7 linked regions of the Homo sapiens genome follow. The protein of the gene in region 5 purifies or fractionates together with the protein of the main gene of each other region. This does not show direct contact. Each region holds a gene or a part of one and is shown on either strand. Other genes may lie near its edges. The genes, in order: HDLBP, HNRNPR, MCM6, GARS1, PINK1, IGF2BP2 and MYO1B.

Region 1 (3,500 bases), on a different chromosome or scaffold from region 5:
GAAACACAAGGCAAACAGCCCTATGACAACAGCAATGTGCCCCACCCGACAATGCCACCAGGACCTTTAACTCAATAGAAAAGAATAGGAAAAGATTTGCATTAGGCTAATGCTGGCAGACAGAAATTCCAGACCCTTCATCCCAAGCCTACCCTCCTGAATTACAGCAGCCCCTTCAGGCCCACGTAGGAGGAGAGGCCCTGACTCCTGGCACATCCTCGGGGTCATGACGGCTTTGACCGATGCCCATGAGGTGCCACAAGGGACTCTCGGACCACTACTCACCTTCCCTGCCCTGTCCCTTGGGATCAGGACGGCTTTGGCTAATGCCCACGAGGTGCCACAAGGGACTCTCAGACCGCTGCTCACCTTCCCTGCCCTGTCTCCCCCACCGCCCTTCACCTCCAGAACCTGCTTTCTTGCCACAGCATTTACCATCACTTGCCACAGGATATATCTGCGTTGACTGCTTGTCTCTCCACGGCAACGTGAGAACTATTTTTGTGTGCTGTGGCACCGCAGCACTGAGAGCAGCATCCAGTACGCAGGTGGCACTCGACACTGACTGCACACAAGGTGAGCTAGGCCTGATAACCCCACTCACGCGGGGGGAGACGTTGCAACTGGAGGTCACATTCATCCCCCTGCAGCTGAGACCCTTCCACAGCCCCCGCACCCACCGTGGGCCTGAGAGGCCGGATCCCATGCAGCTGTCCCAGAAAGGGGCTATAGAACCCCGAGCCTTGGTGAAGGGAAGTGGCCTCCCCAAACTCTGTGTCCAGCCGAGAAGCACAGCCCGTGCGCACACGGTAGGAGCAAGAGGGCTACCTCCACTGCCACTGCCGCTTGGGCAACCGTCCATCCCATCCAGGCCACGCGTCTCCCCAGGTGCCTGCTGACTGGGCCTTGGCGGGGGGTGGAGGGGGGCACATGGACACATACCTCCAGAGCTTCCTTGGCAGCCTCACACTTTTCTTTCCGGCCAGAGATGATGATGATGTCACACCTCCTTGGAGAGCCGGGGTCACAATCTTTAGCCTCTCTCCCCTCCCCAGCTTCGTCCCCATTCTCCTGGACAACTGGCTCTGTACTGTGAACTAGAGAGAAAGGGGAAAAGGGACAGCTGACAGCTGCTGGAAGAGACCCCACACCTTGTTCAGAATGCATATGTCTGTGAGGCACCTGCTGGGTGCTGGGTGGTAAAAGGGAGGGAAAACCACTCCTGTCCTTCAGGAGGTCTTGGTCTGGTCAGGGAGAGCAGATAGGACGTCCCCACAGCAGCCTCAAAGAGGGCTCCCAGACCTTGGGGGGGGGGGGGGGGGCGGCAATGAAGGCTTTGCCGGGAGGCCGTGAGCTCTGTGTCTCCCTTCTTCACCTTGAAGATGAAGCTAACAGCAACTAACTACAGCAGAGGCTTCAGTGAGATCAGATGAGTTAGTTCATGGGAGGAACACAGGGCAGACCCACTGCACAAGTGAGGCTTGACTGTGAGGCAGGGCTCATCAGGGAAGGCGGCCAGCACGCAGCCCCACCCAGGAGAGGCAGTGGGAAGGGGGGTGAGAGGTCTAGGGGAGACAGAAAGGGCAAGGCCAAGGTAAACCTGTGCCAGCTCCTTATGCCAGAAAGCGAGAGCCCCAGAAGTGAAGAGGCGTGTGAACAGGACACAGAAGACAGCTGGAGGGGCTCCTACAGGCCACACTGGGACACCGCGTGTGTACCAAAATAGACACCACAACAATAAGTGTCACAAAACAGACACAACAATAATTATCACTAAGACAGAACCCAGGAGGTGTGTGATGTAAATAAATGAGCAGGAGACCAGACAGACGCCTGCCTGAAATCAAGGGTGATCCTAGGATGGGGAAGTAGGTGTTTCTGAAGGAGAAAAACTGGCAAATTTGAATACCGACAACATATTAGATACTACTGTTATATAATGTTAAATCCGATTCCGATAAATGTGCTAGAATTATGTAAGAGAATGTCCTTGTTCTAAGAAAATACCCACCATGAATAAAGGGACATGTCTAAAAATGACATTCAGAAAAAAAACGTGTGTAAAAGGGGAGAAGTTGAGAAAAGAAACTGGTGCCACAGGATGTGTCTTTATACTATTCTGTGAAATTCTATCAAAATCAAAGTTTTAAATAACCACTGAAGTGTAAAACATAGACAGAGTGCAGTATGAGTTTATTAGTTTCCTACTCAAAACACCCTGTATTCTCAGGAAAACAAAGGGGCTTGAATGGCTGTGTGTGACATGCTTCCTGGATGCCCAGAGAGATGACACTATGTGCACTCAGCAGGCTGCAGGGCCACCTGCCGCCCAAACAGCTCAACCAAGACTGATAACACAGAGTGGAGGGCGGGCATCTGATAACACAGAGTGGAGGGCATACCTTTTGTTTCACAAATGCAGAGCAAGTGAGAGAGAGGCAACCGACCCGCATCCCACAGGTCGCCTCCCCACCACCAGGTGCATGAGCAGAGCTGGGGGCAAGCATGGTACGGGGAACTGAATGCTCTCCTAGAACTGCCGGCCACTTGGATGGTGCCCTCTGGCCAGCCAGAGGCTGCAGCTGCCTGCCTCACAGGGGACACCCCACAGTGATGGGAGATGTGGAGGAGGAAGCTCTACGACGGGGCTCATGCGATCCAAACGATGTCATGAGAATCACTGGGACTGAACTCGGGACACCCGAGGATGAGGCTGCACGCTCCTCATCGCCTTGGGACTGGCTACCTTGTGTGTCTCTAGGACCTATGAAGGTCACCTGGTCACTCTGTCAGTAACTGACGTGGTCCATCTTTTAAAGGCCAGGGAGTGACCCTGAACCTCTGGAAGCCCCCAGAATACATAGATGGTTTTCCAGCAGAGACAGGAAAGAGCCTCACCAGTATGTGCGACAGCCCCGCCTCTCACATGGGAGGCGCCACTATTAACAAGCAGAGCAGGGCTAATGGGGGACCCACCTGCGTTCTCCTCTCTGTCTGGGAATTTAATTTGAACACTGAAATCCCGAGTAATCTGCTGGATTCTGGAACCTTTGGGGCCCATGACAGATCGATGGAATTTCTGGGGTATAGCACATTCTAATGTCACCTGAGCTTCCTGGAGGGAGGTACACAAAGAAAAAAGAAAAGAGCAAAGATTAAATTCCTTAGGGCAAGTTTTACAGCACTCTTCACACCACCTTCCTCCCTGTCCTCTACAGCCACTTGGCACAGATGCTCCCCTTCTCCCGAGTCCAGGGCTCCAGGCGCAGGGAGGAGGGAGGTAGCAGGACAGGTCTAAGGGGGTGGGCCTCCTCTGAAATGTGTCCCAGAAGGCCAGGTGCCATCCCTGGAGGGTGGCCAATTCAGCCAAAGGAGTGGGACCTCCTGGGGTAGCCTCTGACTCCATGAGGAGGCATCAGACTTGATTATTAGGGAAAGGGAATCCAAGGCCCTGGCAGGGGAGTGGCCTGGAGGGGACACTCTCTAAAGACTGCTTCTAA
Region 2 (3,500 bases), 2.7 Mb from region 5:
TGATTTTAATTCCTATTGTTTCTTCTCCTAATACAACTATGACTTTGGGTAAACTACTGAACATGAATGTCATCTATTTTATTGAGCCTGGATCAATCTCTAAGATCCACCACAACTTTGAATCTACCTGTAGTAACTAAGTATAGCCTGTATTACTTTTTCTGTAAAAATATTTTAAAATAGTATTATAGATGTATTATAATAGAGGAATAAAATATTATAAAAGAGGAATAAAATCCCATGAAAACCAAAAGTATAGCTTGTAATTTGCTTACCAGCCACTTCTCACATAACCTTTAGTAACTGCTCAGATGGAAGTTCATCCTAATCTTTTTTTAGGGTTAGAAAACTTCAAGATTTCATTCTGGTAACTCCTTTTTCCTAGATCTAAAACAGGTTTCAGAATGAAAAGGAGGTCTCTATAAACTTAGGATTAAATATTATGGAGCCCTTTATTGTTTCTTTTTTTTAAAAGATGGGGTCTCATGTTGCCCAGGCTGGAGTGCAGTAGCTGCCCACATGTGCAGTCATAGCACACTGCAGCCTTGAACTCCTGGGCTTAAGCGTCCCTCCTGCTTCAGCCTCCCGGGTGCTTGCAACCCCATCCAGCTCCTTTATTGTTTCCTAATTGAAAAGAAAAGTTTATCCATTTGAGTAAAGCTTCTGTTATTCACACTATCAATTTACAATTCACTGAAGATTTTTTTTGCCAAGTTGGGTCAGTTTTACAATGTACCATAACCTAAAAGCCTAAATATATGTCTCTTAAAGGGACCCTTTTTCCTGTTGAACATTTTAAACACAATTTCAGTAAGTAATTTTCACATAGTATGTTATCGTTTCATCATAGAAAAGTCCATGTTGAATTTTTTTTAAAAAGCAACTAAACCAGTGGGAGTCTGTGTAACATAGAGGCTGGACCTTAGTATGACAAATTGAGAATAATAAAGGGGATGGAGCGTTTGTGGAAAATGTTAGTTTTTTTCCTCCTTAAATTAGTATCTTCTTATTAGATAGCCCTTTATCTGAAGCAACAATTTGTTCAATATGTTAGTTTTTTATTTGGATAGGTACTATGTTTTCTTAGTTCAAAAGTTATATAGAAAAGTATAGACAAAGAAATTTCCTTTCTACCCCTATCCCTGTGTCTACCAAATCCCCTTTGTCTCCTATAAGGCATCCAGTTTTAATAGTTGCTGGTTTCCTTTTAGTATTTCCTTCGGCAAATATGGATATACTTCCTTAATTCTTAGATGAGTGGTAGTAATGTTGGTAGCCTACCATATCCACTGATCTACCTTTTGTTTATTCACCATCCTGTTTCATCAGCTCTGAGGAAATACATCATTACTATATGTACTACTAAATAGTTAAAAAACACTGCCAACTAAACTATGGCACAGTACTTGCTTATCACATTGACTGTAAGTTGTCCTATCCTACAACTCATAGAGCTCCTCTTCATTTTTTGGGTTTTTGTTTTTTTTTTTTTTTTTTTTTTTTTTGAGACGGAGCCTTGCTCTGTCACCCAGGCTGGAGTGCAGTGGTGTAATCTTGGCTCACTGCAGCCTCTGCCTCCCGGGTTCAAGTGATTCTCCTGCCTCAGCTTCCCGAGTAGCTGGGGTTATAGGTGCCTCCTACCACGCCCGGCTAATTTTTGTATTTTTAGTAGAGACAGGGTTTCACCATGCTGGCCAGGCTGGTCTTGAACTCCCAACCTCAGGTGATCTGCCCACCTCGGCCTCCCAAAGTGCTGGGATTACAGGCGTGAGCCACCGCGCCCAGCCCTCTTCTTCATTTTTTATGACTACATAGTAGTCTATTCTGTGGAGGTACTATAGTGTATTTAACCAGCTGGATATTGTTTCTAATCTTTTGCTCTTACAGTGCTGGAAGGAATAAGCTTATGTTAGTTGATACAAGTGGAGATATATCTGTAGGATAGATTCTTAGGGGTAGAATTGTGGGCCAAAGGGTAGATATATCTGTAATTGTTAAGATACTGCCATATTCCTTTCTGTAGGAGATACACTATTTTACATTCCTACCAGCAAAATACAAGAGAATTATTTTCCTCATTCTTGACAAAATAGTGTATAATCAAACTTTTGAATTTTGCCAGCCTGATAACAAATGTCTCAGTGCCATTAATGATTAATGATTTGCTTCTCTTACTATGAATGGTTTGAACTTTAAATATATTTTAAGAGCCATATGTGTTTCTGTGTATGAACCATGTATTCAGGAATTTTGCCTATTTTTCTATTCAGTTGTTGAGCTTTTTGTTATTTTCTGGTGCTCTGATATAAAAGAGAGATTAGCTGTTTGTGATACATGTTGCAAATTTTTCATCCATATTTATTGTCTTTGCTTATAGTATTTTTTTGCCATATAGAAGTCATTTATTTTTAGTAGTTGAGTATAACATTCTTATGGCTCCTAGATTTTAAGTCATAAGGTCATCCCCACTCCAGTGTTATATAAAGGAATCATTCTTGTTCTAAAATTTCACAGTCCTCCCTCCACCCTTTTATTATTTAAATTTTCAATCTATTTGGAGTTTATCCTTGTGTATAGTGTAAGGCATGGACCAGCTTTTCTCCTTTTTTTCTAATTTAACACTACCTGATTTAATGATTTAAGCATTATAGTTTGTTTATATTTGGTAGGGCCAGCCTCTAAATTTCACTCTTTTTTTTCCTGGTTATTCTTGCTTATTTATTTTTTCATATGAACTTTTGAAAGTTACTCAGTTTTAGAGGAAAGAAACAGAAAAACTTGTTTTGAAAGGGACTTTTTGTTGATTAACTTGGTAATAATAATTATGTGTTGGTTCCTTGAAGGTTCTACTCAGTGTTAGGTGCTTTAATGACAACATAGGAGAAGGCAGGAACCAATAATTTTTGTAAATTGGTGACTGATATCAGTGTCATTTTCCTAGCAATTTCTCTTACTACCTGTAACAACACTTTTAGCACTTAATGTTTTAGAGGAGAAAAGCTATGCTATGAAGACAGGAAGAAACACTTTTCAGGTAAAATTAAGTAGCCAATGACGGTTTTGTTTATTTGTTGCTTACTAGGTAAAAGTTTTGTTTGTGAGAAACTTGGCTACTACGGTGACAGAAGAAATATTGGAAAAGTCATTTTCTGAATTTGGAAAACTCGAAAGAGTAAAGAAGTTGAAAGATTATGCATTTGTTCATTTTGAAGACAGAGGAGCAGCTGTTAAGGTAGGAATTTTGAAATTTTGGTTCTTGATATTTGAATTTTGTTTTTGAAACTTGCCAAACACAAAGTAACTTTAAAAACTGAAACAATATTGGTTGTCAGCTTTTGCTGAACTCTTTCTATTTAATCTCTGTAAAGTGGTAATAGTATGTAACAGATAAGACTCCATATTTCAAAGCCAGGTTATTACTGAGTTTGTGATCTTAGGCAAGTTATTTTTAATCTCTGTATTGTTTTGTAAGATTCGATAGCATGATGCCTTGGAAGTAT
Region 3 (3,500 bases), on a different chromosome or scaffold from region 5:
ATAGTGGTTTGCATTCAGATTTTGTAGAAGGTTGACTTTTGTAGGAGTTATACCCACTTATCCAGAAAGTTTAGTGTTGGAGAAATGTATTTTCCTATGGAGATGGGATTAGATGTAAAGGGAGTGAAGCAAATTTTTAGGATTATCACATTTTAGGGCGCCTTTTAGGGAAATTTGGGAGAAAATTGATCAAGGGAGAAAATATGAAATTCTAGAAATTCCTGAATCTCTGGAAATTTTTGTTGGTTTAAATGCATAATTTTCAAACACCCCTTTGGCAGTTATTTTAAGAATAAATTTACTGGATAAAATTGAAGTGATATTTTGAAAAGTTAAACTACTGAAATTATAAAATTACCAAATTACTTCACATAAAATGGGTTTGTAAAGGAAGTGTTTCTGAACTTTGAGTACAAAATTTTTTCTCATGATAGGATTATTATGTAACACATGCTTTTTTTTTTAGAAATTGCGGGTAAGCAAAAAAGTATTTGCATATAAAACAAAAACAGGATCATTCTGTTTTTGTTTTTTTTTTTTTCTGAGACAGAGTCTTGCTCTGTCACCCAGGCCAGAGTGCAGTGGCACGATCTTGGCTCACTGCACCCTCCACCTCCCGGGTTCAAACAATTCTCCTGCCTCGGCTCCCCGAGTAGCTGGGATTACAGGCGCCCGCCACCACGACTGGCTAGTTTTTGTATTTTTAGTAGAGGTGGGGTTTCGCCATGTTGGCCAGGATGGTCTTGATCTCTTGACCTCATGATCCGCCCACCTTGGTCTCCCAAAGTGCTGGGATTACAGGTGTGAGTCACTGCGCCCAGCCCGTTCTGTTTTATAATTTTAATTTTCATTTTTTTGGCATCCTTTAGTTCATTTATATATTTTGTTCTGGATACATATACGTCATATAATTTAGGATTGGGCACGTTGACTAAATTATTCTTATAGGAGAGTCCAAAGAATACCTTGTCTCTTGAATTTTTTTTTTAAACATAAATTATCTTTGAATACCCTCTCACTAAAATGGAAAGATTCTTAGTTAAGAGATGAATGTTTACTAATGGGACATTTGTCTTTAAACAGGATTCGAGAGCTCACCTCATCCAGAATTGGTTTGCTCACTCGCATCAGTGGGCAGGTGGTGCGGACTCACCCAGTTCACCCAGAGCTTGTGAGCGGAACTTTTCTGTGCTTGGACTGTCAGACAGTGATCAGGGATGTAGAACAGCAGTTCAAATACACACAGCCAAACATCTGCCGAAATCCAGTTTGTGCCAACAGGAGGAGATTCTTACTGGATACAAATAAATCAAGATTTGTTGATTTTCAAAAGGTATTTATTTAACATCTGTTTAGATCAGAGTCCATCTATGATAATAATTCACTTCTAGGCCCTTGCAATAGCTTATTTAGATAATGTTCAACTCAATTTTTATGTAAGTTAAGCATCATCAAAATGACTACAAAGTTAAGCCCAAAACTGTTCATGTAAATTATAATTGTTAGTATATACATTTGTTTTAACTTTCAGTAACTTGGAAGTTCCTTAAGACTGACAAGATGTATTTGTCAAAGAATAAATGGTAACTAGGTGGTGGTGGTTGTCATTATGAACTGGAGTTAAGAAAACTTAAAGAAATAGCAACTTGTTAGTGTAAGATTTCCATTTGCTGCATAGAAAGGAAAGCATGAATAGGACAGGCTAGCTTGGAAGCAATGAGGATTATCATGATTGAAGTAAAGGAGCCAAATTGGAGATCATCTGAGAGATGATTTGATGTGAGACCTGGAGGTACTTGGATCCCTAAATCTTAGGCTGAGGAGTTTGAGCCTATCTTAATAAGCAGTGGGAATATAGTGGGAAGGTAGTTTGTGTGTGTGGGTGTGTGTTTGTTTTGTTTTGTTTTTTGTTTTTTTTTGAGACAGTCTCTCTCTGTCACCCAGGCTGGAGTGCAGTGGCGCGATCTCGGCTCACTGCAAGCTCCGCCTCCTGGGTTCACGCCATTCTCCTGCCTCAGCCTCCCGAGTAGCTGGGACTACAGGTGCCCACCACCACACCCGGCTAATTTTTTGTATTTTTAGTAGAGACAGGGTTTCATCGTGTTAAACCAGGATGGTCTCGATCTCCTGACTTCGTGATCCGCCTGCCTCTGCCTCCCAAAGTGCTGGGATACAGGCGTGAGCCACTGCACCCAGCCTGTGTGTTTTTTTTTAAAAGCAAACTGAATAAGTCCGTGATGGGTTTAACAGAGGGTAATAGGCAATTTCAGTTACCTGGGCAAGAGGTGATGGATGGCAGTAGTAAGAATGAAGGGGACCCTCAGATTTCAGCAGGACTTAATTTTATGGGACATACAAAATGGAAAGAAAAGCTGAAGCAGCTCAAGTATGGAATAATTATTATCAGATGAATTTAATATTATTTATATTGCTCTGATAATCATTCTCCTTATTTGGCTTTCTTACATTAACCTGGTAGCTTATAAGATGCACATATTTTACCAACAGCTTTGGGTAGGAGATGTCTTATCTTATAAAGTATGAATCTAGATTGGGTCTTAGTTTGGGGGGGGGAACACAACTGTATAAAGGACACTCTTGACAAGACATTTGAAGATGGACTAGATAATAGAAGATATGTAATTTTATGAAATTAAATATTGTTTAATTATCTTGGTTGTGATAATGATATTGTAACAGGATTGTCTTTATTCTTAGAGATGAATGCTAAAATATTTAGGTATGAAGTTTCTTGATGTTCACAACTGTGTTCAAATACATAGTAAAAAAACATGTATCTGTAAATAATGTTAGCAGTTGTGTTGAAGTGGAGGGTATAAAAGGTGTATTTGAAATTTTCTGTAAAATTATCTTAAAGCTTAGGAGAAGATGGAGCATGGAACAGATATTTGGAGTCATTTTGAACAAAGAAAAAAATTATTTTTTAATGAGTAAAAGTGAAGTTTTTTTTTTCTCTGCTGCTTGAATCATCATGGAGTTTTTAAATAGATGTAATCTCTTGCCAAATTGAACTATTTGACTAAAAGGAGTTTTAGAGTAGATAATTTTTAGGATAAATGTTGGTACATGTGAAAAGTCTGCTAATGGGTCAGATAGTTTAGAATACGTCCGTATTTGTGGTATTTAATTTAGATTATATGGCATCTGAAAGGTATTGCTTCTCATTCTTGGTTGGTTGTTTGTCTGTATTACAGGTTCGTATTCAAGAGACCCAAGCTGAGCTTCCTCGAGGGAGTATCCCCCGCAGTTTAGAAGTAATTTTAAGGGCTGAAGCTGTGGAATCAGCTCAAGCTGGTGACAAGTGTGACTTTACAGGGACACTGATTGTTGTGCCTGACGTCTCCAAGCTTAGCACACCAGGTCAGTAATCTGTGGCTCAAATTTAACAAATTCTCAGTTACCTAAACTGCACAGTATCTAGCTTCCCACATCTTCATTGTCTTCTTTTTGGCTACCAATCAGAAGCTGAGGAACGAAGT
Region 4 (3,500 bases), on a different chromosome or scaffold from region 5:
ACATAGCTATCTGTGAGCAGAAGGTATACATTTCTTTGCTTTTCCATATTTTTCAGATTTTCTACATGAAATGAGTAGTTCTTTATAATCAGGAAGTTATTTAGATAAGTATATTAAATAATTTAATAAGTTATTTTATTTAAAGTAGGATACCCCCACTCCAAAGTAAGATCTCACTTTAAAACTGGCTCAGGGGTGAGCATGGTGCAATCGATCTCCAGGATCTGTTCCTCTTGGATAAAGTGCTGCCTCCAGGTCTGAATAATATTGTTCTTCAAAGCACAGCCAACTGGCCCAAAGTCATACAGACCACTAACACCTATAGAATATGAGAGGAAAACACATACTTTACCTTGTTACTCTGAACAAATGAAGGCAAGGAGACATGAGAAACTGATACCTATACTCCCTAAAAGTGTATTCAAGTCAACAATGCAAATCCCTCAATACTGAAGAACCTTACTTTCAGCTAGCTGATGGAAGTAAAATAAAAAAGCTCTTACGCCATTTACTAATTCTATATTTGTAATTTCAAGTAGGACTAGCCCAAAATCTACAACAAAAGTTCCCCCTTAGAGAACAGAATGAAAAAGCAGATTACAGTTTTCTGCCGTAAAAATTACAAAATAATTTCTCACCACATCTGATAACAATGATCTATAATTTTAGCATCCAATTCTCTAATTTTTTCCTGGGTATTTGAGGCACTATTTAACCTCAAAAGGGTAAACATTTACAGATCCACTTAGCCAAACTCAAGTCAACTTTCAGTGGCAAAGTACTATATGTCTAATGTTGTTGTAATAATCCGTTGACTATGAAAAATATAGTTTTACATTTCATCAGTGAATTGTATTTGCCTATATACCTTCATATGGCATTCACAGTGATTTATCTACATCCCTGGGAAGAATGTTTTCTCCTGGCAGATGACCATAAAGAATAATCTAAGGACTGTTTTATCACTGCCCCTGTGTGAAGGGGCATAGTATAGTTAGCCAGTACTACAATGGCCCTCTGTTACTCTTCAGTCTCCATTGCATTTTAAAAAGAGTACATGAGTACACAGACACATCAAATACATACATGGGCCTCCAACAATTCCCTACATCCTAATCAAAAAAAGTGCTGTCCAGGAATAAATGCAGTGGAGAAAAATAACAGGTATCACACCAAATGGTGACTCCAAGCAAACAAAAGCAAAACATCCATCCTCTGCTTTGTGGCCTGATACAAGTGGATACCAACAGGCAAGCCATGTTCTTGATTTAAGTATAATATTAGAGCCACTAACAACACAATAGTTCTTTTTGTCATTAATCCCTTACCTCCATAAATAGCAAAAGCTTGATCATAGAAAAACCTCCTCTTCAGGGTATCTTCCATTTTTGCTCGGTCTACAATATCATCTTTGGGCTGTAACGCCAGCTCCTGTTAGAGATTAAATAAAAAGTGAGTGAGTGGAGGGGTGGGTGGGAATCTGAACTTATATATCTGAATTTAGTTTATTCCTCACCAGAATTAAATATAAAATTTATCAAACAGACAAGATTTTGATAGGTTAAAAACAATAGAAGCCATAGGTCTTTTTTTCCCTTTGAGTAATATAAAAGATATCTTTACTTAATCATTTAGGAAAATATATGATCATTTCCAAGATTACAAGACTAAGCTTGACCAGGTGCGGTGGCTCACACCTGTAATCCCAGTACTTTGGGAGGCCGAAGTGGGTGGATCACCTGAGGTCAGGAGTTCAAGCCCAGCCTGGCCAACATGGCAAAACACTGTCTCTACTAAAAATACAAAAATTAGCTGGGCTTGGTGGTGGGCACCTGTAATCCCAGCTACTTGGGAGGCTGAGGCAGGAGAATCACTTGAACCCGGGAGGCAGAGGTTGCAGTGAGCTGAGATCGCACCATTGCACTCCAGCCTGGGCAACAGGGCGAGACTCCATCTCAAAAAAAAAACAAGACTAAGTTTACTTTGATGTAGATACTGATAAGCAATATAAAGCAATATTTGAATTGTCAGTGGATTGCTATAGCAAAATGGTTACTTTAAAACCCCAAAACAACTTAAGTTTGGTGATGGGAGATCTATTGTTTGAAAGGTCTGGGAGCAGGTATCAAATAAACAGACCTTTTCCTTAAAACAAACAAACAAACAAAAATCATTATTTTCAGGCATAAGAGAAGTCGTAAAGAAGAGCACAATCCTTTCCATGGAAATTCATATAGCGTATTGAGTCCAGCATTTGCAGGGTCAGGAAGGCTTTATTAAAAAGTTGACATTTTGAGTTGCATTTTGAAAGGATGAGGAGTCTACCAGGTAGAGGGAAAGGAGAAGGCGGCATTATGGATAAACAGATAAACCAAATGATACTTGTTCAGAAACTTTTCTAGGTCTCTCCCATCCAAAGAAATTAAAGATGAACAATCCTATACCTACTTATGTTCCTATTTTAGCATCCCAGGACTCACCTTTGCTTCCAGAACCCTCTTGCGGGCTTTGAGCTCAGCCACTGCTTTGTCTACGTCTACTTGGGGTGCTTTATCTTCTTTGAGTTTTCGCACAAGATCTCCCTAGCCAAGAAAGAGAATTTATATTCAGGATTGGTTTCAGAAGTTAAGAAATGTTAGGAATGTGTTTTTAAGCGTGCCTTTTAAAAAGTCTATGTAAGAATGATGCAATTCAGGCCAAGCGTGGTGGCTCACGCCTGTAATACCAGCACTTTGAAAGGCCCTCCTCACCATCTGAGATCAGGAGTTTCAGACCATCCTGGCCAACATGGTGATACACCATCGCTACTGAAAATACAAAAATTAGCCGGCCGTGGTGGTGGGCACCTGTAATCCCAGCCACTTGGGAGGCTGAGGCAGGAGAATCACTTGAACCCGGAAGGCGGAGGTTGCACTGAGCTAAGATCATGCTACTACACTCCAGCCTGGGTGACAAAGTGAGACTCCGTCTCAAAATGAAAAAAAAAAAAAAAAAAAAAAAGAATGATGCAATTCAAATGTTTATTATGTGAGTGATCATTATGAATCAAGGTCTCTGCCCTCTTCATTTAATAATCTAGAAGAACACACGGGCAAGTTAACAAATAACTGCTCACATGGTGAATTTTTTCCTTTGGGTATAGAGGGGTGAAAAAGGAGGAGACAAAAGCATTGATTAAAAAGTAGGAAAGAGCAAGATTTGTACTGAGAACACAGAAGAACCAATAAATTGACCACCTTCTTAAATCTCTCTCCTCTCGCTTACAAAAAAAAATAAAAACATTATTCAGTTTTCCTCCCACTTCTCTGACCATTCTTCTCAGTCACTGCTGGCTCATCTTCCTTTGCCTTTCTCTTTACAGTTGGAATTTTTTCCTTGCTAATATTTCTGAATTATTTTATTAACTTCCAACAACTTATACTAATTCCATATTTATAGTAATATGGTGGAATAGGTCATCTGAGTAAACAAACAAAATATTACCTATATAGGATGAAAAA
Region 5 (3,500 bases):
GCCTTGGCTGGGGAGTATGGAGCAGTCACTTACAGGTAAGTGCCCTCTGCCTGCCAGACTGACTGGGACTTCTTTGAGAGCAACTTCATCCATCACTTATGTCCTCAGCACCTGGTACAGTGTCTGATATGACAGTAGATAATAAAGGCTTAATGTTGGTGATGGATTTTCAGTTAGTGGATAATTTCACTTGGGAAAGATTGCAGGTAATCTGACCCCAAATGATGATGCACTTGCGTAATTCACATTGGAGCAGGGGAGAGGAGGCCCCCCAAAAATGCCCAGTTCACAGTGTTGCATGATTGACTGGGGTTCTCAGATTCCTCCTAAGAAATGCACGGGTAGAGCGCCACCTATCGGAATAAACTGAACTCTGTCCCCACCAGAGGGAACACTCATTTCACTAATAGTTATGTGCACTGATGGTGCCAAGAGATTTTAAAAAAAACAAAAAGTGGTCTGTTGGCCCAGAGGTCTCAGTGTGGCAGCAGAGAGCCCAGGGTGTAAGTGCTAGAATCGAGTATGCTTGGGCTGAGGGAGCCCAGGGGAGGCGTGTGCTGCAGAGGAGGGGCTGCTCAGAAAGCCTTCTCAAAGGGACAGTTTGTGCCACCTTGTGAAGGATGAATTGGCATTACTTGGGCAGAGGAGTAGGGAAGTGGCATTCCCAGCAGAGGGAAGAGCAAGTGAACAGCAGCTACGCTTTCAGCTCAGAAAAGCCCATGTCCACCACCAGCCTCACCACAGGTGGTGAGGACTGACGCGCAGGCTATGACAGAGGAGATACTTGTGCCCACCTCAATATTTACAGCCTGGCTCATGCCTGTAATCCCAGCACTTTGGGAGGCTGAGGTAGGCAGATCACTTGAGCCCAGGAGTTCAAGAGCAGCCTGGGCAACATGGTGAAACCCCGCCTTTACAAAAAATAAATTTTAGCCGGGCATGGGGGCAAATGCCTGTGATCCCAGCTACTCAGGAGGCTGAGGCGGGAGGATCATTTGAGTCCAGGGAGGTTGAGGCTGCAGTGAGCCAAGATCATGCCACTGCACTCCAGCCTGGGCGACCCTGGAGTGAGACCCTGTCTCTCATTTGTAGACCCACCAAGAAGAGGTGGGTCTGCTGCATTTTTGGTGATTTACTGGAGGGCTGGTTTATAGATCTTCATTCTGTCAGAAGCAGGGAGGCAAAAGTATGAAATTAAGGGAGTGGTTGTGGAAAACCCCTTCCATGGTTTGGAGGTTTCCAATGTGACTGGGAGTCCCTGCAGGCCGGTGGAGGTAGCTGCTCAAGTGGCTGCTGCTTCTCCTGAGGCCTTTTTGGAGAAAGTGGACACCTGAATGTCAGCTGCTTTGGGGCTAACATGATCCTTGATGCCTCCTTTTGTGGCATGAGTGGCAGCCGGCCGACGTGGTGCTGTCCTGCTGCCGGAGCACCATGATGTCTGCTGCTGAGACCTCCCATCTGACATAGTCCCTGTCCCTCTTCAGGGACTTTGTTCCTTTAGCAGTTCTCACTGTCTGGCCTCAAATAACACGTCTTTTTCTGTTGGTTCCTTTTTGCTCCAGCTGTACTGTAAACACTCTTTGTTTACTGCATACCCTCAGTAAATACCTGTTGAATGACCGGATAGATGTGGCAGCAGGTACATTACCTCAACTTCTGGTACACCTTGGGAGAAGCTTTCCCAAGAACACCCTGGGTTCATTTCCTCCTAGCCTCTGCTCTCCTGGGGCCCAGAGATTGAAGGCGCTTAACCTGCTCATCTCACCACGTCTCCCGCCTTATCTCTCACCCTTCTCATCAGCACCCTACACTCCACCACGCTGGCTTCATAGCTCCTTCCCCGAATGTGCCAGGCTTCTCTGTGACCATCTCTTGAGCGTACAGCTGGCTATACCTGGGCTGCCCTCCTCCCACATTTCAGGTCTCAGTTCAGACACCCGCAACCCCACCATGTATCTCCCCAGTACAGCCATACTCCTCTGCCCCTGAGCTCCCATGACACCTGCTGGGGCCCTGACAGCCTGGGGCTGTGATCATGACTTGCCCAGGGGCCCGAGGGTGGAAACGATGCTCTGGCTCCTTTGATTGCATAGAACAGGGGCCACTCAGGTTGACTCAAGAGCAGGAGCAGCGCGTGGGCACACGTGGACTGCAGCCACACAGCCTGGGGACCATGCAGTGCTGGGAGAGGCCGGTGCCCTGCTCTCTCCCCAGCACCGTCTAGGCTCTGCCCCATTCGCTTCCCTCCACCATTGTTATGCAGCAAAGGGGGCTCTAGCCTGATGTGCTAGAAGCAGTCACACTGGATTTTTGAGAAAAGCCAAGCTTTCTATTGTGAGTCGACTCATATGGAGACAGGAGTTGAATTCAACCCTGTCTCCCTGTGCTAGCTTTAAGGCGGTAATTTTATTAGAGGAGGTTTAAGGGGTGGATTCTAAGATTAGCAGGTGATTGATGGAAGGAAAGGAGAAGTCTGGACAGTCCTTGGACATGCACAGTTATCTGTTCATGCCAACTCATGGGTCCCCTGTGCAGATTTGGGAGGAGTGAGTATGAAACGTGCAGTGGCAATTCAGGCTTTGACATCAGCAAACTTGTTCTGTGCAAGCTGCAATTGGCCTTATTGGTTCCAACCAATTTCAGCCAGTTCTTTTATCTCATAAGCAGAGGGAGTTTCAGCCTTTCAGAAAGTGGTTTCTGCAAACTCAAATTTTCTTTTATTTTTCTGAGACAGGGTCTTACTCTGTTGCCCAGGCTGGAGAGCAGTGGCGTGATCTTGGCTCACTGCAGCCTCAACCTCCCTGGGCTCAAGTGATCCTCCCACCTCAGCCTCCCAAGTAGCTGGGTCTGCAGGCACATGCCACCATGCCCAGCTAATTTTTGTAGTTTTTGTAGAGACAGAGTTTCTCCATGTTGCCCGGGCTGGCCTCGAACTCCTGGGCTCAAGCAATTGCCTGCCTCAGCCTCCCAAATTGCTGGGATTACAGGAGTGAGCCACGGGAATTTCCATCAGTTACTGATTCTTGAACTTGTAGGAACGTGGTTCCACTGTCCACATGCTGTTCTTTCCTCGCATCTCCTGTTCCTGCTTCCCTTTGGCCTGCTCACCTCTGGCTCCTCATGGCCCCAGTGAAGTATCGTGGCTTCCTCTCCACTGCAGACTGGCAGATTTCTTCACTCACACTCCCAAAAAGAGAATCTACTTCCCTCCCTTCCCTTCGTCCAACCATCTGGGTCTCGAGTGTCACTGTAGGTTCACTGCCGTTGGGGCAGGTGACTCCTTGGGCCAGTCAGCTTTGGCTGAAGGGCAGGGCTGGCACACAGCTGGCAGAGCCACCCCATCCAAAATCCAGCCACTGTGCCTCAGCAGGGCTGTGGTTTGGGGGTCGGGGGGCGCTCCCCACAGGATAAGGAGCAGCCAGGGCAGGCAGATGACACTACCACTACTAGCTGCATCTGGATCTATTCACTTATTCAACAAAGGTTTATTACACCCATAT
Region 6 (3,500 bases), on a different chromosome or scaffold from region 5:
CCCGCAGAGCTCCAAACCTCTGCTTTTGTAGAAATCAATGCATCCATAAGCATTAGTTCGCTTACAGGAACAGTCCTGGCTGTGAGGTTATCAGTACCCTCTTTATGAACTTTTAGCCTCTCAGCATGAAAGCTTGTCACAGCCCCCAGCTTGATGTTAGTCTGTTAGTAGTCCTGTTGAAAGAAGCCACTGTCTCTTACAGCACAGCCCCCCACTGCTGATGTAAGCAATTGTGACCTAAGAGTGGCTGAGACCCACCAGCACGCAGGGGACCCCTCAGAAGGAAGCAAAGGAAGCCCCACAGGCACGTACCGGGACTGGGTCTGCTTAGTGATGTTCTTTATGGTCAAGCCCTCCTTTCCGATGATGGCACCAACAAACTGGGTGGGGACCAGGATCCGCAGCGGGAAATCAATCTGTCTGGCCTGAGAAGTGCCCCCAGGGGCGTGGCCTTGCTCCCGGGAAGAGTGGTCCCCACGCTGGGCTCGCTGAGGGGGCGAAGGGGAGCTCACCTCTTCATCCGGGATGTAGGAAATCTTGAAGGAGTAGTTCTCAAACTGATGCCCGCTTAGCTTCTCCATGGCTCTGAAATGCAGCAGGACAGGGGAGCTTCGTCAGAAACCAACATCAAGAAAGACCCTCCCGGCCGGGCGCGGTGGCTCACGCCTGTAATCCCAGCACTTTGGGAGGCCGAGGCGGGTGGATCACGAGGTCAGGAGATCGAGACCATCCCGGCTAAAACGGTGAAACCCCGTCTCTACTAAAAATACAAAAAATTAGCCGGGCGTAGTGGCGGGCGCCTGTAGTCCCAGCTACTTGGGAGGCTGAGGCAGGAGAATGGCGTGAACCCGGGAGGCGGAGCTTGCAGTGAGCCGAGATCCTGCCACTGCACTCCAGCCTGGGCGACAGAGCGAGACTCCGTCTCAAAAAAAAAAAAAAAAAGAAAGACCCTCCCGCAAGACTGGTTCATTCACTCCCATTTAATAGGTGCCTATATGGTGCCATGCCAGGCACTGAACATACAGTGGTGAGCAAGACAGACACCATCTCTGCTCCCTCAGGGCTTACGGTTAACAGTTAAACAAGTAATCACAACGCATCAGCCTGGTCAGGCTTCATATCCAACATTACAGCCTGGTTTCTCCACCACTCAAGGCCATTTCCCCCTTATCAAAAACTCTTATAAATATCAGTATAAAATTATGACTCATTTTTTTCTCATTTTAATCATCATACATATTATTGAAAATTCAGAAATATGTAAGTGCAAATAAAATCCTAATCCACTATCTTTACTGTCTTTCTTAAATATAAACATATTATTGCTTATAAAAATGGGTTAATATTGTACATACTATGTTCTAACCTTTAAAAAAACAGTTAATATTCTAAAACATTTTTCAATGTCACTAAGTACCTTTCAGTATAATTTACACATGACTCAACTGCAGTATCAGTATAATTTTTAATGACTGTTTAACATTCTATTGATTTACCATAGTTTTTGCAACTGATCCTTTATAGTTAGATATCTGTTGTATCCAACCTTTTACAGTTACACACACTGTCACCATTGGCATCTTTGCAACTACAACTTTGCACACAGGACAAATTCCTAGTAGAATTGTTAACTATTGCCCAGTGGGCCCCTGGAATGGTTTCAACATTTATGATCCCATAGCAGTTTAGGAGAGAGCATTTGTGTCCTTGAATCTTCAAATGCACAGAGCGCTGTTATTTAAAGATATTTATCAATTTGATAGGGGATAAATGATATACCACTATTATATTCTTAAAATGACACACGAAATACACTATCCTTTTCACATATTTTTAGTAGCATTAACCCAATTTTACTAGGTTAATGTCTAGGACTTGTAAATTTATTACAAAGCAGCACCTTTTGAATTTAATAAAAGCAATAGAGTAATATCATGTAGAGAGGTCCACCCAAGCAGCAGCTAGATAAGGGCTGTGGAGTTGAGTTGTTGGTGTATCTCCACTTACAAATGTGTACAAGGTAAAGTTAACACTAAATGAACTATTACCTTTTTCTTTTTTTTTATTTTTTTCGAGACAGAGTTTCGCCCTTATTGACCAGGCTGGAGTGCAATGGCGCGATCTCAGCTCACTGCAACCTCTGCCTCCCAAGTTCAAGTGATTCTCTTGCCTCAGCCTCCCGAGTAGCTGGGATTACAGGCATGCGCCACCACGCCTGGCTAATTTTGTATTTTTAGTAGAGATGGGGTTTCTCCATGTTGGTCAGGCTGGTCTCGATCTCCCAGCCTCAGGTGATCTGCCCACCTCGGCCTCCCAAAGGGCTGGGATTACAGGCATGAGCCACCACGCCTGGCCTGAACCATTATCTTTTTCAATGCAAAATTAACATTTTGAAAACTAGCAGTATGAAAATGGGTTAAATATCTTTGTATGTTGAAAAAGAACACTATAATCCTGGGATATATAGCCAAGGTTATGCCACACCCATAAAGCAAGACCAAATGTGACCATAATTCTAGTTATAATGACCTGACAGGCACTTTAAGGACCTCCTACAAAAAAGGAACTTGTTTTTGTTGTTCTTTTAAAGATGGGGGTCTCATTATTTTGCCCAGGCTGGTCTCAAACTCCTGGCTTCAAGTAATCCTCACCCTCCCAAGTAGCTGGGATTATAAGCATGTGCCACCACATCCGGCTGTTGTTGTTTTGAGAGGCAGGGTCTTGCTCTGTTGCCCAGGCTGGATGGTAGTGGTGCAATCACAGCTTACTGCAGCCTTACCATCCTGGGCTCAAGTGATCCTCCTGCCTCAGCCTCCCAAGTAGCTGGAACTACAGGTGCAAGCCACCATTCCCAGCTAATTTTTAAATTGTTTTTTTGTAGAGACTGGGTCTCCCTATGTTGTCCAGGTTGGTCTCAAACTCCTGGGCTCAAGCAATCCTCCGGCCTTGCCCAAAATGCTGGGATTACAGGCATGAGCCACCATGCCTGGCCTCATTGTTTTTTAAGAGACTTGATCTCATGTCCATTAACAGCTAAGCTCAAAATTAACCATCCCTGAAGTAATGAATGGGCACTGGAAAGAGGATGGGGATTGGAGAAAAGAACCCAAACCAGGTGCTATTGAGTAACCACTCTCAGACAATTCTCTCGGCTGCTGCTCTCACTGAGGTGGATTCCCTCCTAATGTTACACACACAAAATTGATGTTTTGGTATAGGCTTGTGCTGCCTCTTCACAGTGCATGGAGGAAGCTCTAGGTAAAAGTGGTCCCAAGTGTTTGGCAAAGCAGAGTCTAGGAGACACAGTGTCACAGGTATGGTGCCCTCTATTCCCGATCATGTCAAGACACAGCTCCCATCTTGGTTTTGATGCCAAGGCTCAACATTTTTCAAGTCTCTACACAATCCACAAATATCCCGGTGTGAATGTCCTGGAGCTCCACTGACATGTCAAAGATGGCAGGAACACCCTGGAGCTCTACCAATATGTCAAAGGTGGC
Region 7 (3,500 bases), on a different chromosome or scaffold from region 5:
GAGCACAGGGCTGCATTTTCTTTCCATTCCAGGTTCCAGCTGCTCTCAAGTAGTTCAGTTTTTTGTTCATTTGTTTCTCTCTTTGTCTAAAGGAATACTGTAGGACAGAGAAATCATAAAATTTGGACACCTTCAGGCAACATAGTTAAATCCTGCAAATTGAAGAGTTTACTTTATCAGATGTACAGAACAGATAATCAGATAATACATGTGAACACACACACTTTGATGGGTGGGAAAAAAGGCTTTTTCCTGTCCCTAAAGATAGTAACACATTCTCTATCTAAATTACAGGGAAGCTGGAAATCTGTTTTATACTGCCTTTTATTTTAGCTCTCTTATTTTGTATAAGAGGACATGGCATGTAATTTAGATGTTGCCCAGCATGGAACACGTGGGGCACTTGTATAGATGTTGACCTTACTTCGATAACCTAGTCAGTTGATATGTGGAATGTTAAATATATGCAGTTATCAGATGTAATAAAATCATGAGATGGAAGGGCATGTATTTAGTAAATGAATGCTCAGTACACACATCCTCCAGGAAACTTTCCTGCCCAGCACGGTGGGCTTGTTTTTTTGTTAGAATCATCTATGTATAGAGTGACATTATTGCTGATTAGCTTGATAAGTGGTACCATACAACATAAGGAACTAGATTCTGAGTTCTGTTCTCTAACAGCAAATTTGGCGAGGTTCATGAACCTCTTAATGGCTTGTCTCCTTTCTTGAGTCTAACCCAGAAACTGTTTTCAGAAATAATGACAGGGAGCTCCCATTGCTGGGGATCTGCACCACCTCTGCCCTCCCCTGGCTTTGCAATCTCACCCATCCCTCCATTGGATTGGAGGTGGGAGATGAGGGCTGTTTATTCCTGAAGGGAGCCTTTCCATGGAAAGGGTCAGCAGCAATGCTCACACTTCTTCATGCAATTATTTCAGTAGCACTTGACCACACCTGTAACTGAATTTCTAGGAATGCTCATCTAAAAAACCTGGCCCTGCTCCTCTGGCCACTGTCTCCTCTCATTGCAGCTTCAGGGATGGAGTGAAAGGGGATATCTCAGGTCCCTCATCCCTATTGTAAAATGGTAGTGGGGGGATTTGGAGCAGTGGTTTTCAAACTGTCATAGCATATTTGTGGTCATGAAATCAATTTAGTGGATTACTACCAGCGTTTTTCAATAAAATGCAATAGAATAGAAAATAGCAGAGTGTACAATATATAGAAAGGATTGAGTATTGTTTTGTGACGCTTTTGTGTCAGTTTTCTCTGTATGTGTGTGGAAATGTGCTTAGTGGATTGTGATGCACAATATTTTTACTGTGAGTCTCTCTAGAAGAGTGACAGCCTCAGGACTAGAGGATTTCCAAGGATTGACATAGTGGGAGGAAATAGTACTTGCAAGGCCCGTGCCCACTAGGCCCTGGTGTGTTTTGAAGAAGCATTCCAGGTTCTGCAATACAAATAATACTCTGACGTTTTCCAAGACAAACTTTTTAAAACCCACAAGGGAAAAATGTTTTTGGCCTTTTTTAGTGAATGTTTTGTACTTTCTCCCTTATTCTTGTTGCTGATAAATTGTCTTAGCATATTTAAGAATGAGTAATAATTTATTTATATAAATGATGTTTTGTTTCTTTCTTCTCATATCTCACAGTGTAAAAAATACAGGGACCAATTCACAGACCAGCAGAAACTTATTTATGAAGAGAAACTAGAAGCCAGTGAACTCTTCAAAGACAAGAAGGCTTTATACCCATCTAGGTATTATGGCTTTGCTTTACCCATAAAATTCAGGATTATAAAAGTTTCTCAAGTATATTTGTACGCCGTTTTGCCTGGTGTTTGATTTCAGTCTTAGATGAGTGATTTTTAGTTCTGTGAATCATTTTATAATCAGCTTGATGTAAACACATTTATTTGAGCTATGGCTTCTATAGTGCAGTTTAATGAAATGAGGTTACGATTGTTGGTTTCACTCCATTAGCATTAGCTCAAACACTTTACTAAATAATTAGAAGTCATTTAACATAAAAATTATATAGGCTGTTAAGATACGTTTGCATTGTAAATTCCTGTTCCTTTTCCGTAGTTTTCAAAGACTAGCCAAATTTCTGTTGGCAATATACTTTAATCACCATTCCAGTCTTCCTGCCATAGCAAGCAAGGTCAGAAACTTATTTGTAAGGTAAATGAAAGAGCGAGCCAGGACAGTACTTTTTGAGTGTTGCTTGAGCACTGGTCTGTGGTGCCCTTTGGTCTGCTAACTCAACGGATATGACTTCTGTGGCCTGTACAGCACGTTCAGTTCCTTTATTTTAGACACCGTGGACTCAGAAAAAGAAGGAACACCAATCCCAAGTTCAGCAAGTGAAGTCCTTGGTAAAGACTGTTTATCCCAATAGTCTTACATCTCCTGCATTCATCACTTCCTCCCAGCAATCTAATCCCATTTTCATCTGGTGTTTATAAAAAAGTAGATTGTACAATTTCAAGCCAAATCTGTAACAACTTTAAGCTTCTTCCAATGAATGGCCAAAGAAAGAATGTATTATATGCTGAGTATATTCACATTTATTACGTAAATTATGTTTATATTCTCTGTGACTTTATACACATTTAAAATATCTTCCTTTTAAAGGATTAAAGGAATATACATTGCCAGACTCACTGGGTTTAAATATTTTAAATTGTACAACTTCATTGGTTAGCTGATGTGGCTACTTGAGGTGATACATACTCCCTTAAGTCAAACACAGTGTCTAAATCCAAAGTTGTCCAAAGTGCCTGTTATATAAAGCATATTCAAACAGGAGAATTTGTCTGTATGCTTGCTTCAGCAACTAATTTTATTCAGCTTTTTTTTTATACATTTTTAAATTAGGGAATAACCTTCTTAATGAACATTTCCTGTGGATGACTCTTCAGAAACTACAGGCTGGAAAATACATCTTTGAGGAAACAATTTAAAAGCCTGTTAGCATTTTTATAATTTAAAACACAGTTGAATAGGAACCAAAAAAAGTTAACTTCAAGCCAAGTCCTTTTTGGGTAGTCTTATCAGTTTTCAGGGATAGTGGCACACTCACCCCACAGCAGTGAGAGAGGTGGAATAATTTAGCCTCCCACCACCCTGCAAAGTGGCAGCTCTTATGGGAGTTGGCCTTTTATATCCTGAGAGCTGTGAAACGCTGACCACCTACGTGGATTTTTCTTCCCTTATCCTCCACCCACAACATAAGCATTTAAATTTGTATTTGCAAATTGCCAGAACTTTGTAGCTCAAAATGAAGCTTATAGATTCCTTGAAGCAGCAGTTTTTCCTTGGTGCCTTTGATGAACCTGTCCTGAAAGAGTCCCCCGACAAGTCTTTAGGGAAATTGATATCTTAGTGATAAGTGTACAGTTAACCTTTTACAAAAATTAGTTTGTTTGGGAAAAAAAAAATTGCCCTGATTCTGAATGTTTGCTTTGGTTACTTCTGTCCATTTAGAG

What was found.
Region 1: the proteins of PINK1 (region 5) and HDLBP purify together in Homo sapiens (affinity purification with mass spectrometry; 2 studies listed by BioGRID and IntAct, with this or other methods). This does not show direct contact.
Region 2: the proteins of PINK1 (region 5) and HNRNPR purify together in Homo sapiens (affinity purification with mass spectrometry, with the first as the bait; one large-scale study listed by BioGRID). This does not show direct contact.
Region 3: the proteins of PINK1 (region 5) and MCM6 purify together in Homo sapiens (affinity purification with mass spectrometry, with the first as the bait; one large-scale study listed by BioGRID). This does not show direct contact.
Region 4: the proteins of PINK1 (region 5) and GARS1 purify together in Homo sapiens (affinity purification with mass spectrometry, with the first as the bait; one large-scale study listed by BioGRID). This does not show direct contact.
Region 6: the proteins of PINK1 (region 5) and IGF2BP2 purify together in Homo sapiens (affinity purification with mass spectrometry, with the first as the bait; one large-scale study listed by BioGRID). This does not show direct contact.
Region 7: the proteins of PINK1 (region 5) and MYO1B purify together in Homo sapiens (affinity purification with mass spectrometry, with the first as the bait; one large-scale study listed by BioGRID). This does not show direct contact.

What each region holds. Positions count from the first base shown.
Region 1 is NC_000002.12:241,235,673-241,239,172, forward strand, and holds part of HDLBP (vigilin), read right to left. Parts: intron 3,116-3,500; coding exon 2,977-3,115; intron 1,098-2,976; coding exon 943-1,097; intron 1-942. UniProt on the Homo sapiens protein: Appears to play a role in cell sterol metabolism. It may function to protect cells from over-accumulation of cholesterol.
Region 2 is NC_000001.11:23,313,285-23,316,784, reverse strand, and holds part of HNRNPR (heterogeneous nuclear ribonucleoprotein R), read left to right. Parts: intron 1-3,082; coding exon 3,083-3,232; intron 3,233-3,500. UniProt on the Homo sapiens protein: Component of ribonucleosomes, which are complexes of at least 20 other different heterogeneous nuclear ribonucleoproteins (hnRNP). hnRNP play an important role in processing of precursor mRNA in the nucleus.
Region 3 is NC_000002.12:135,866,444-135,869,943, reverse strand, and holds part of MCM6 (DNA replication licensing factor MCM6), read left to right. Parts: intron 1-1,083; coding exon 1,084-1,333; intron 1,334-3,215; coding exon 3,216-3,381; intron 3,382-3,500. UniProt on the Homo sapiens protein: Acts as a component of the MCM2-7 complex (MCM complex) which is the replicative helicase essential for 'once per cell cycle' DNA replication initiation and elongation in eukaryotic cells.
Region 4 is NC_000007.14:30,597,878-30,601,377, reverse strand, and holds part of GARS1 (glycine--tRNA ligase isoform 1 precursor), read right to left. Parts: intron 2,583-3,500; coding exon 2,481-2,582; intron 1,432-2,480; coding exon 1,329-1,431; intron 320-1,328; coding exon 178-319; intron 1-177. UniProt on the Homo sapiens protein: Catalyzes the ATP-dependent ligation of glycine to the 3'-end of its cognate tRNA, via the formation of an aminoacyl-adenylate intermediate (Gly-AMP).
Region 5 is NC_000001.11:20,639,958-20,643,457, forward strand, and holds part of PINK1 (serine/threonine-protein kinase PINK1, mitochondrial precursor), read left to right. Parts: coding exon 1-35; intron 36-2,699; exon of another isoform or gene 2,700-3,161; intron 3,162-3,500. UniProt on the Homo sapiens protein: Serine/threonine-protein kinase which acts as a sensor of mitochondrial damage and protects against mitochondrial dysfunction during cellular stress.
Region 6 is NC_000003.12:185,689,043-185,692,542, forward strand, and holds part of IGF2BP2 (insulin-like growth factor 2 mRNA-binding protein 2), read right to left. Parts: intron 586-3,500; coding exon 313-585; intron 179-312; exon of another isoform or gene 66-178; intron 1-65.
Region 7 is NC_000002.12:191,409,404-191,412,903, forward strand, and holds part of MYO1B (unconventional myosin-Ib), read left to right. Parts: intron 1-1,662; coding exon 1,663-1,769; intron 1,770-3,500. UniProt on the Homo sapiens protein: Motor protein that may participate in process critical to neuronal development and function such as cell migration, neurite outgrowth and vesicular transport.